Linked DNA regions of Homo sapiens. The protein of the gene in region 1 purifies or fractionates together with the protein of each later gene. This does not show direct contact. Each region holds a gene or a part of one and is shown in the gene's direction. Other genes may lie near its edges.

Region 1 (3,660 bases):
CAGGAAGGACTCTGCTGGCCCCTTGGGCCCCACCCCCTTTGGAGGCCAGCAGTGGCCACAGGGTCTGCTTTGGGCACTCGGTGTCCCCTGACCCTTCAGCCACACTGAACCAAGTCAGGAATATCTCTTCGTTTGTTTCTTCCTCATATTTTTGTATCTAGACCGTGCCTGCTGACCCTCAGCGAGGACGGTGCTACCACTGGGCCAGGGGGAGGCCCGGGTCGATGGAGAGGGCTCATGAGGTCCCTCAGCTCCTCCTCGGCTGCCTCCCCCCTGCCATGGGGTCCTGGGAGGTGCAGCCACAGCCACCCAGCTCCCGAAACTTGCTCACCTGAGTGAGTTTCTGACTCGTTGTAAAGTGCGAGCTGGTGTCAGGCCCGGCTCGGAACAGCTGCTCATTTAGAGAGAATGCAGCGTTCACGGCTCAGGCCGTCGGATGAATCCACTTGACAGAGATGTTTTTACAAGGGCCAAGGGCTCTCGCTCTGAGGATCCCTGACATATGTGACCTCTTCCTTCCAGCCACGGAGACCGCCCAGCAGTTGAAGCGGAGCGCCGGGGTGCCCTTCCACGCCAAGGGCCGGGGGCTGCTGCGGAAGATGGACACCACCAGTAAGGCCCCCACCCTGGTGCCGTGAGCCTTGCTTTTGGGGCAGAGCTAAGGGCTTCACCTGGAGACCCGCTCCCTGTTGGGGAGGTGGTGCCTGTGAATGGTCTTCAGGCAGCAGTGTTGGGAGCCCGTGGGAAAGCGAAGGCACTGGGGCAATTTCACCGGCTTCTCCCCTTGGGGAGCTCCCTGGGAGGATGTGTGGGCACGGAGACAGGAGGGCCGGGATCTGAGGACAGTGCTGGGCACGGAGACAGGAAGGCCGGGATCTGAGGACACCGCTGGGCATGGAGACAGGAAGGCCGGGATCTGAGGACAGTGCTGGCCCCTGCTCCTCTGCTGTTGGCACCGGTGGCTCTCGGCCTTCCCAGCTCGGGCTTTCGGCCCCAAGTGCTGCTCTTGGGTTCCGAGTGTCCCTGGGCGGCTCCGCGGGGAGGACGTGACCGTGCTCAGCTGCCCGTGGGGCTGTGCCCCCCGCACCCCTCCATCTGCCCTTCCTGATTTGTGCTCTCAGGGCTGGGCGTGAGCTTAAGCAGGATGCACCCTGATCACAGGAAGACGGCGTGCCCCTGGGAACCATGGCAGGGCATACTCACCCCAGAGGGTGCTGGATAGTGACCTGGGGGCCAGAGGGCAGGACGGGTGTCGTCCTGTGCTGAGACAGCTGGGTAAACTTGCAGATGGGTGGGGCTGAAAGGGCAGCCTTACAGGCGCTCTCCATGCAGCTCCCAGACCAGCCTGGCTTAGTTTATTTGGGCTCCCATAATCCCACAGTGTTCACATGGGACCTAGTAGAAGGCATCTTGGGTCTGCTGACTATTGTCGCTGTGTGGGGGGCCGTCCCTGGGTCATGTTCCTGCCCACCGCAGCCGAGGTTCCACCTTGCTCTCCTCTACCCCGCCTGGAGCAGACCCTTGTCTTTCCACCCCCACCAGGCATCCCAGGGCCAGGGCTGCACCTGCTGGCCCAGGGAGGGTGGGCCAGCCGTTGAGCAGTGTGTCCAGCCTGGCCCGGTGTGCTGATGGCACCATCCCCCGGGCGTCCTCTCTCCGGGCCTGGCACCATGAGAGCCACGCACGCCTTGGAGGGTGCGTGTGGGCGCTGGTGGGTAACAGCGTAGGTAGGCCTCAGGAGTGTCCTCAGGGGACGGGGAGAAGGCTTGGGAGGGCGGCCCTCAAGCCCAGGCGCCTGGCTTCATGCCCCTGCCGGTGGAGGCACAGGAAGGAGGCAGAGCTCAGCCCCCGCCACACTGGTGAGAGACTCCACCTGGTGAGATCCTGTGGCTGGGCTGGGGTGCCGCTGTCTTTGTTTGGTGTCTTGGCAAAGTGTGAGGTCGTGGCTCCAGGCGTTCCCCTGCTCCTTGAGGTCCGGGATCCTGGGGGTCCTGCCCGCTGCCCGCCAGGGGTTTGGCCCTTCCCCTCTGCGGCGCTAGCCTAGAAGAGGGTGGGACGTTCTGAGCTCGGGGTGGGGGACGTTTGCCGGTCACTGCTGCTGGCGCCCTGACTGTTGCCGTCCTCCAGCCCCACTCAAAGGCATCCCGAAGCAGGCGCCCTTCAGAAGCCCCACGGCGCCCAGCGTCTTCAGCCCCACAGGGAACCGGACCCCCATCCCGCCTTCCAGGACGCTGCTGCGGAAGGAACGAGGTGTGAAGGTAGGCCCGTCCCCCAGCTCCTGTGGCACCCCGGGGCCCGTTGCGCCCTGGTGCCGTCACTAAGGCAGGGCTGTGCTTGTCTTGGCAGCTGCTGGACATCTCTGAGCTGGATATGGTTGGCGCTGGCCGAGAGGCGAAGCGGAGAAGGAAGACTCTCGGTGGGGGTTGGGGCCTGCGTGTCGGCGGCAATGGGGGTCCCTGCGGGCCCTGCCCAGTTGGGGTGGGTTGTGCCCACGCTCGGCGGGCAGGGCTGTGCCCCGTGAGGCTGCTCTCCGTGGGTGGGTGCCTGCTTTTCTCCTCGCTCCTTGGTGGCCTCCCCTGGGAAGCTGTTTGATTCCCTGCCGCTGCCCTGAGCTGACACTGCAGACGCGCCCGGGCACTGGCGAGGACTCCTGTTTTGTCCACAGATGCGGAGGTGGTGGAGAAGCCGGCCAAGGAGGAAACGGTGGTGGAGAACGCCACCCCGGACTACGCAGCCGGCCTGGTGTCCACGCAGGTAGGGCTCGGGGCTGCACCCCATGTCTGGCACCACTGCGGGTGCCCCTTTTGTTCCGATTGTGGCCACTAGTGTGCTCTGTCGGAGAATATATATATGTATGTACATATGTGTGCAGTCTGTATTTATGTATATATACGTATATGTACATGAGAGGCAGTGTGGGCCGTGCCCTGACATGGGCATCTGACTCAGGCTTGGAGCGGGAACCTGCCCCACGCTTGCTGGAGGGGCTGCCAGGGGAGTCCTCCTCAACCCTGTGCCTCAGTGTCCCGTCAGGCAGGGCTGGTGGGACCTAAGCCTTGCACGTGGCCGTGAATGGGTGCAGGACAGGCCTGTGGGGGTGCTGGGTGGTCAGAGGCCTCAGTGTCCCGGAGACCAGGCCCTGCCTGCGGGTGGGAGGCAGCCACGGGGCGCGGCAGGTGCACAGAGGCTGCAGTGGGTCGTCTGAGGCCAGGGCCTGGAGGAGGCCACACTGTGGGGTCACTTCAGGATAATAAGCTCCTTTCTTCCCGCCGCTGCGTGTTCTGTGTTTCTTAACATGAGCATCTTCCTTTATATCAACGCTTCGTGGTAAGAAAAAGCATCGCTCCTTCTGTGCTCAAGATGGGCTGTTTGGGCTCCTCAACCCCTCCCCTCTCCTACACAGGAGCGGCTCAGTCCCCAACTCTGCTGGGGCGCCAGGGGCCAGGGGTCCCGTTGTCTAGCCCAGGGAGCTCGGGAGAGTGGCCCCCGCCTTCCTGCTCTAGCTCGGGGGGCCACAGCCTGTGGCAGTGGAGCTCCGGGTCGGGCCATGTGTTAGCACATGCCGGAAGCATGGCCTCTTCTGGAAGGAACCTTAAACTCTGTGTTCCAGAAACTTGGGTCCCTGAACAATGAGCCTGCGCTGCCCTCCACGAGCTACCT
Region 2 (2,723 bases), about 100 Mb from region 1:
GGCAGACAGTTTTATGTTTAATAGCAAGAAAAGGAAAAAAAATTAGGTCTTTCATAACTGAAAATTAAAGGTTTACTTCTTGACTAACTTTTTCTCTCATTGCTGGTATATATTCCTCTAGGAATAAATGGTTTATGTAGTTTTTCTTCTCTGGATAACTTCATAAGATAGTTAATATGTTACTGTAAGAAAACTTCCTATCAATTTTCAGAGTATGTGGACAAATATCTGGATTCCTTCTCTTATAAATCGAATATCTCAGAACTCTATTTTTGTTACTTTTCACATTGATTAAAAATGTATGCATGCAGACAATATTGAAGGCTACCTTGATTTCAAGAGCTAAAAATGTTTTATCAACTATTTCAGAGTAAAGTTCTAAATTATAACTGGATATATTTTAGGTATAATAACTACCATTTTTTAAGTAGGATGTTATTTTGTAAAATTTTATCTTTTACCTATATGTGAATGTAATGCTTTTGTGAATCTTCTTAAGAGTATAAAGGTAGAAAAGGTGTCAATAAGAAGTTCAATTCAAAATTAATTTGAATACGTACATTTGTGCCTAATATGAAAGTGAAAAAATATATTCTTGTGTGAACAAGAGCAATATGTATTTATATAGTGGCATTGGTACCATTGTGAGCTTCTGATTAGCCAGGAAAGTTAATCAGAGAAGTTGAAGTGTTATACCCTTATGAAATATATCAGAGAATGAGATCAGTCCTACCCAAAATGTCACTGTGCAGCCTAATGAGGCAATTGATAAAATCCTTATTAAAGGAGCAGGAGACTCTTACATGATAGTTTAACCGGAATCATGGGCAAATTGTGAAACTAAAATCATGAGAACTTTTTAACACATCATAAAAATTGTACACTTCCAAGTAATTAACTTTGCATATATTTTGTACTCCTGTAACTGTTGCTCAAAATTTAGGAGGACATTTTTTTTTAATGGGTTTAGAATCTATACAGCTGTCTTCTTTCTCTCACACAGTCACTCAGTAAATAAATATTGACTGAATCTCTTCATCTTGGATATGTTCTCCTGAATATTCTGGGTATGGGCATTTTTGCTATTAAGAGTGAATTAAATTTTTGAAATGATCCCTAGTTATTTGGAGAAAAGTCTAAAAGAATTAGATGTTTAACTAAGGTCGATAATACTTTGTTGGGTAAAAACTATGTTAAAGCACTAAATCTGGTTTTCAGATATAGCTTAGAATTGAATCTAAAAGCAATTCCCAAAAAGGAATTTCATATATTTTCTTTTGGAATCATTAGAACAAGAATATGGTATCAAAAATTTTCTGCTTTGCAAATGATAATACCCACTAGATACAGATAAGTTTTGTTCTGTGTGGTTTTTCAGATCAGCTTCATAAGAACCTAATTTGGTGGTGTGATTTAAATTTCCCAATTCATAACTTGGGATGTTTATACAGGTACTGATTAAACTTGGCTCTAATGTAATTATTTACTTTATTTTTTTAGACATCCACAGTTATTTCAGGAAATTCTTCTAGTGCCAGCGTTTCCTCGTCAGTAACTAGTGGCTTAACTGGATGGGCAGCTTTTGCAGCCAAAACTTCCTCTGCTGGTCCTTCAACAGCAAAATTGAGTTCAACAACACAAAACAATACTGGGAAACCTGCTACTTCGTCAGCTAACCAGAAACCTGTGGGTTTGACTGGTCTGGCAACATCATCCAAAGGTGGAATAGGTTCCAAAATAGGTTCCAATAACAGCACTACGCCCACTGTACCTTTAAAACCACCTCCACCTCTAACCTTGGGTAAAACTGGCCTTAGTCGCTCAGTTAGTTGTGACAATGTCAGCAAAGTAGGTCTTCCTAGTCCAAGTAGTTTAGTTCCAGGAAGCAGCAGCCAACTAAGTGGGAATGGAAATAGTGGAACATCAGGACCTAGTGGAAGTACTACCAGCAAAACTACTTCAGAATCCAGCAGCTCTCCCTCAGCATCCCTTAAAGGCCCAACTTCACAAGAATCACAGCTCAATGCTATGAAGCGATTACAGATGGTCAAGAAGAAAGCTGCCCAAAAGAAACTCAAGAAGTAATGTGGCCAAGTAGGTTTTTGTATCATATTAGCCTAAAGATGAAAGGCTTATTATTATGATATAATCTGTAATACACTGTAATTTAATAAAAGTCTTCATAATCAAATTTCTATTGTTTCTTACCTTAAAATGCTAAATATTATATAACAAAACTTGGAAACTTTCATTTTAAATCAATCTTCAACATTTTTATTCTAATGATTTCCATAGTGTGTGAAAACAATGATTAGAATGACTGGTTCTCAATGAGATCTTCAGAAGATTGAAAGCATCTGTGAATTTAAGGAAAAAGAAATAGTTCATCTTCTAGCAAAGCCCCAAGAGTTGATCCTGATGAATGAGGTGCCTTATGTGGCGGCAGGGACGACCCAACATAGTTTTCTATTTTCCTCCCCGTATTCTGGGTGTTCATTTTCTGTGCTAGCCCCATTTCAACTGACTCTCCCTCTCCCTCCCAATTATTTCATCTTTTTCAAAATTATTTTTTCATTATTGATTTCTCATATCAATGGATTTTCCTAATTGATTTATCATACTTCATATTATATCTTTACCTTTTTTATCACCTCATTTCAATTATTTAAGGGTATATCTTTTTCCAATAAATTGTGAACTCTCCTGGTGCTTAATACAATATT
Region 3 (2,453 bases), on another chromosome or scaffold:
TGCTGTTTTCGTTTCAGATAGTGTATGTTCACTGTGTATGTCGTATGATATTAACAGTTGTGCTGAGGTTTTCTATTTTTGTCTTTGTTGATTTTTCCACTCAGCAGCCTCATGATTATTAGTGTTTTTGTTTTGTACTTGGTGGCCTCAATTTTTTTCTTTTGGTTTTTTAAATTCTAGCAAAGAATTTTTCATCTTTTCTAAGAATTTAGCTGATAGAAGAGCATTTCATCATCTTGTTTGTGATTGTAAACAATTTATACATGCAGTTAGTGACCAGCCACCTCCCATTAGGAAAGCCAATAGACACAAACCTGAAGGACAGATTTGGTATACTTGTTACTTAAATTGTAGGTTGAACTTTGGGGTTTTTTTGTTCATTGTTTTTGTTGCTGCTGTTAAAGTGAATATTCTACAGAGTAGAAAACTAAGGTTTAAGAAAGTTGTAAAATTACTTTTATTTTAAATAAATTATAAAATTTTAACATGAGATAAAATTCAAAGACAGTTACCACATTCCCTCAAGATTGGCAGCAAGAGTTTTTGTATGAAACATTTGAGTTTTCTGTGATCATCAGAATCTTTTAGCTTTTCCTTTCAGCCTTGACTCTTATTTTAATGTATACTACATTACATTTGTATAACTTTCTCTCATTTAGCTCTCAAAACAATGGAGATAAGTTGTTATAAATGAAGGGCAGATACTATAATCTCCAGTTTCCTGAGGGGCAGGGGAAGGGCCCAAAGGAAGCAAATTAGTTAGCAAAGGAAGGGCCAGAGTCAGAGTCTTGCACTGGAGTCTTGACTCCTAATCCAGGGTTTATACCACCACCCCATAGCAGAAGACAAGGATGATTCATTTGAACAATCTGTGGCCTTGATATAATTTATGGAAATTAGCTCACTATTTGTATTCTAAATAACTAAAAATTTTAGGAAAGCAAAGGAGTTTTGAGAAATGAATGCTAAATACTATACATTATTCCGGTCATGTGTTTGCATTGGAATAGTGTAGTGGTGTCTAAGCCAAATTTACTTGAGAACAAATGTCTATCTTATTGGATGTAATGATGTAAAGCATATTAATCATACTTTAAGTTTACTCAGTGTTTTATCATGGATTAGCCATCTACTAATTTTGTCATAAACTTTGAATTGTGGCAAATAAGGTTAGAGCAATACATATATGTCAATATGGAAAGCAATCTGTTTATTCTTTCTGCATATACAACAGTAATATAGTAATACCTGTTATGATCATTGTAAAATCCCTAAAGGTTTGATAGTGATGTGTACTTTGCCTGAGGTTAATGAGTCTCAAAACTTATGTTTAAATATTTATTAGGAACAGAACATTCATATAGCATTTGGAAAGTATTTGAAGGATAGCAGTAAGTCCCTCACATTTCTTCCACAAATAGACTTATAAGAAAATTAAGGAAGATAAAATACAAGTTAAATAATGGGAAAAACAAAATTTTATAGTATTATATTGACTCATATCCAATTTTCTTATGTTTTTTTTTCAGAGACAAAAGTAAAACTATTCAGTGGTATTGTAAATTGATGTCTCAGGCATAGCTCATTTATTTGTTTATTTATTGTATTGTTTCTAAAAGAATGTTTATTATAAAGAATACCTAGTGATGTTCTTTCTGTTTTATCTTAGAGCTGAACTAGAGAAACATGGTTATAAGATGGAGACTTCATAGCATCCAGAAGAAGTGTTGAAGTAACCTAAACTTGACCTGCTTAATACATTCTAGGGCAGAGAACCCAGGATGGGACACTAAAAAAATGTGTTTATTTCATTATCTGCTTGGATTTATTTGTGTTTTTGTAACACAAAAAATAAATGTTTTGATATAATCTTGGTTTGGTTCAGAAGTCTTAATCTTTTGCTTCTAATCAATTTTCTTGTCATGATTTTCCAAAACCTTATTATATATAGATAGTAAAATTTCATATTATGAAATTTTCTTTTTTTTTTTTAATGTTAACTGAGTGAGGCTCAGGTTAAATGATCTGGAGTAGATTTCACCTGATTCCCAATTCAGTACTTTTCTTAAACCACATCAATTAATTGTTACTTCTATTTTATAAGGAATTTCTTTTACATCACATTGAACCTTAATCTCTTCTGTATTTTGATAGCTTAGGCAACATTTGCTGACATTTATAAGGTGACCTTTCAAAACCTGTGTTTTAAAAATATTAATCATTTTAAATTGCTGTAATTTACTTAGTTCCTGAGCCATTAATAATATTATTAATGGTTGTTAGCGTATTATTGGTACTTAAAGTCCAAAGTAGTTTAATCACAGTAAGAATGGTGTCTTCTATTAAAATTGAGGAAGTGGGCTCAAGATACTTTATCAACAAGTGCATATTTTCAGGTACTACATAGCAGGCTCATTTAGTACAACTGAGTTTTCACAGAGTGATAGCTGTTG

The links.
Region 2: the proteins of NELFA (region 1) and INTS12 purify together in Homo sapiens (affinity purification with mass spectrometry; one large-scale study listed by BioGRID and IntAct). This does not show direct contact.
Region 3: the proteins of NELFA (region 1) and SEM1 purify together in Homo sapiens (co-immunoprecipitation; one large-scale study listed by IntAct). This does not show direct contact.

What each region holds. Positions count from the first base shown.
Region 1 is NC_000004.12:1,984,870-1,988,529, reverse strand, and holds part of NELFA (negative elongation factor A), read left to right. Parts: intron 1-522; coding exon 523-612; intron 613-2,052; exon of another isoform or gene 2,053-2,127; coding exon 2,128-2,258; intron 2,259-2,346; coding exon 2,347-2,416; intron 2,417-2,665; coding exon 2,666-2,754; intron 2,755-3,610; coding exon 3,611-3,660. UniProt on the Homo sapiens protein: Essential component of the NELF complex, a complex that negatively regulates the elongation of transcription by RNA polymerase II.
Region 2 is NC_000004.12:105,682,095-105,684,817, reverse strand, and holds the end of INTS12 (integrator complex subunit 12), read left to right. Parts: intron 1-1,500; coding exon 1,501-2,085; 3' UTR 2,086-2,191; downstream 2,192-2,723. UniProt on the Homo sapiens protein: Component of the integrator complex, a multiprotein complex that terminates RNA polymerase II (Pol II) transcription in the promoter-proximal region of genes.
Region 3 is NC_000007.14:96,688,183-96,690,635, reverse strand, and holds the end of SEM1 (26S proteasome complex subunit SEM1), read left to right. Parts: intron 1-1,669; coding exon 1,670-1,712; 3' UTR 1,713-1,874; downstream 1,875-2,453. UniProt on the Homo sapiens protein: Component of the 26S proteasome, a multiprotein complex involved in the ATP-dependent degradation of ubiquitinated proteins.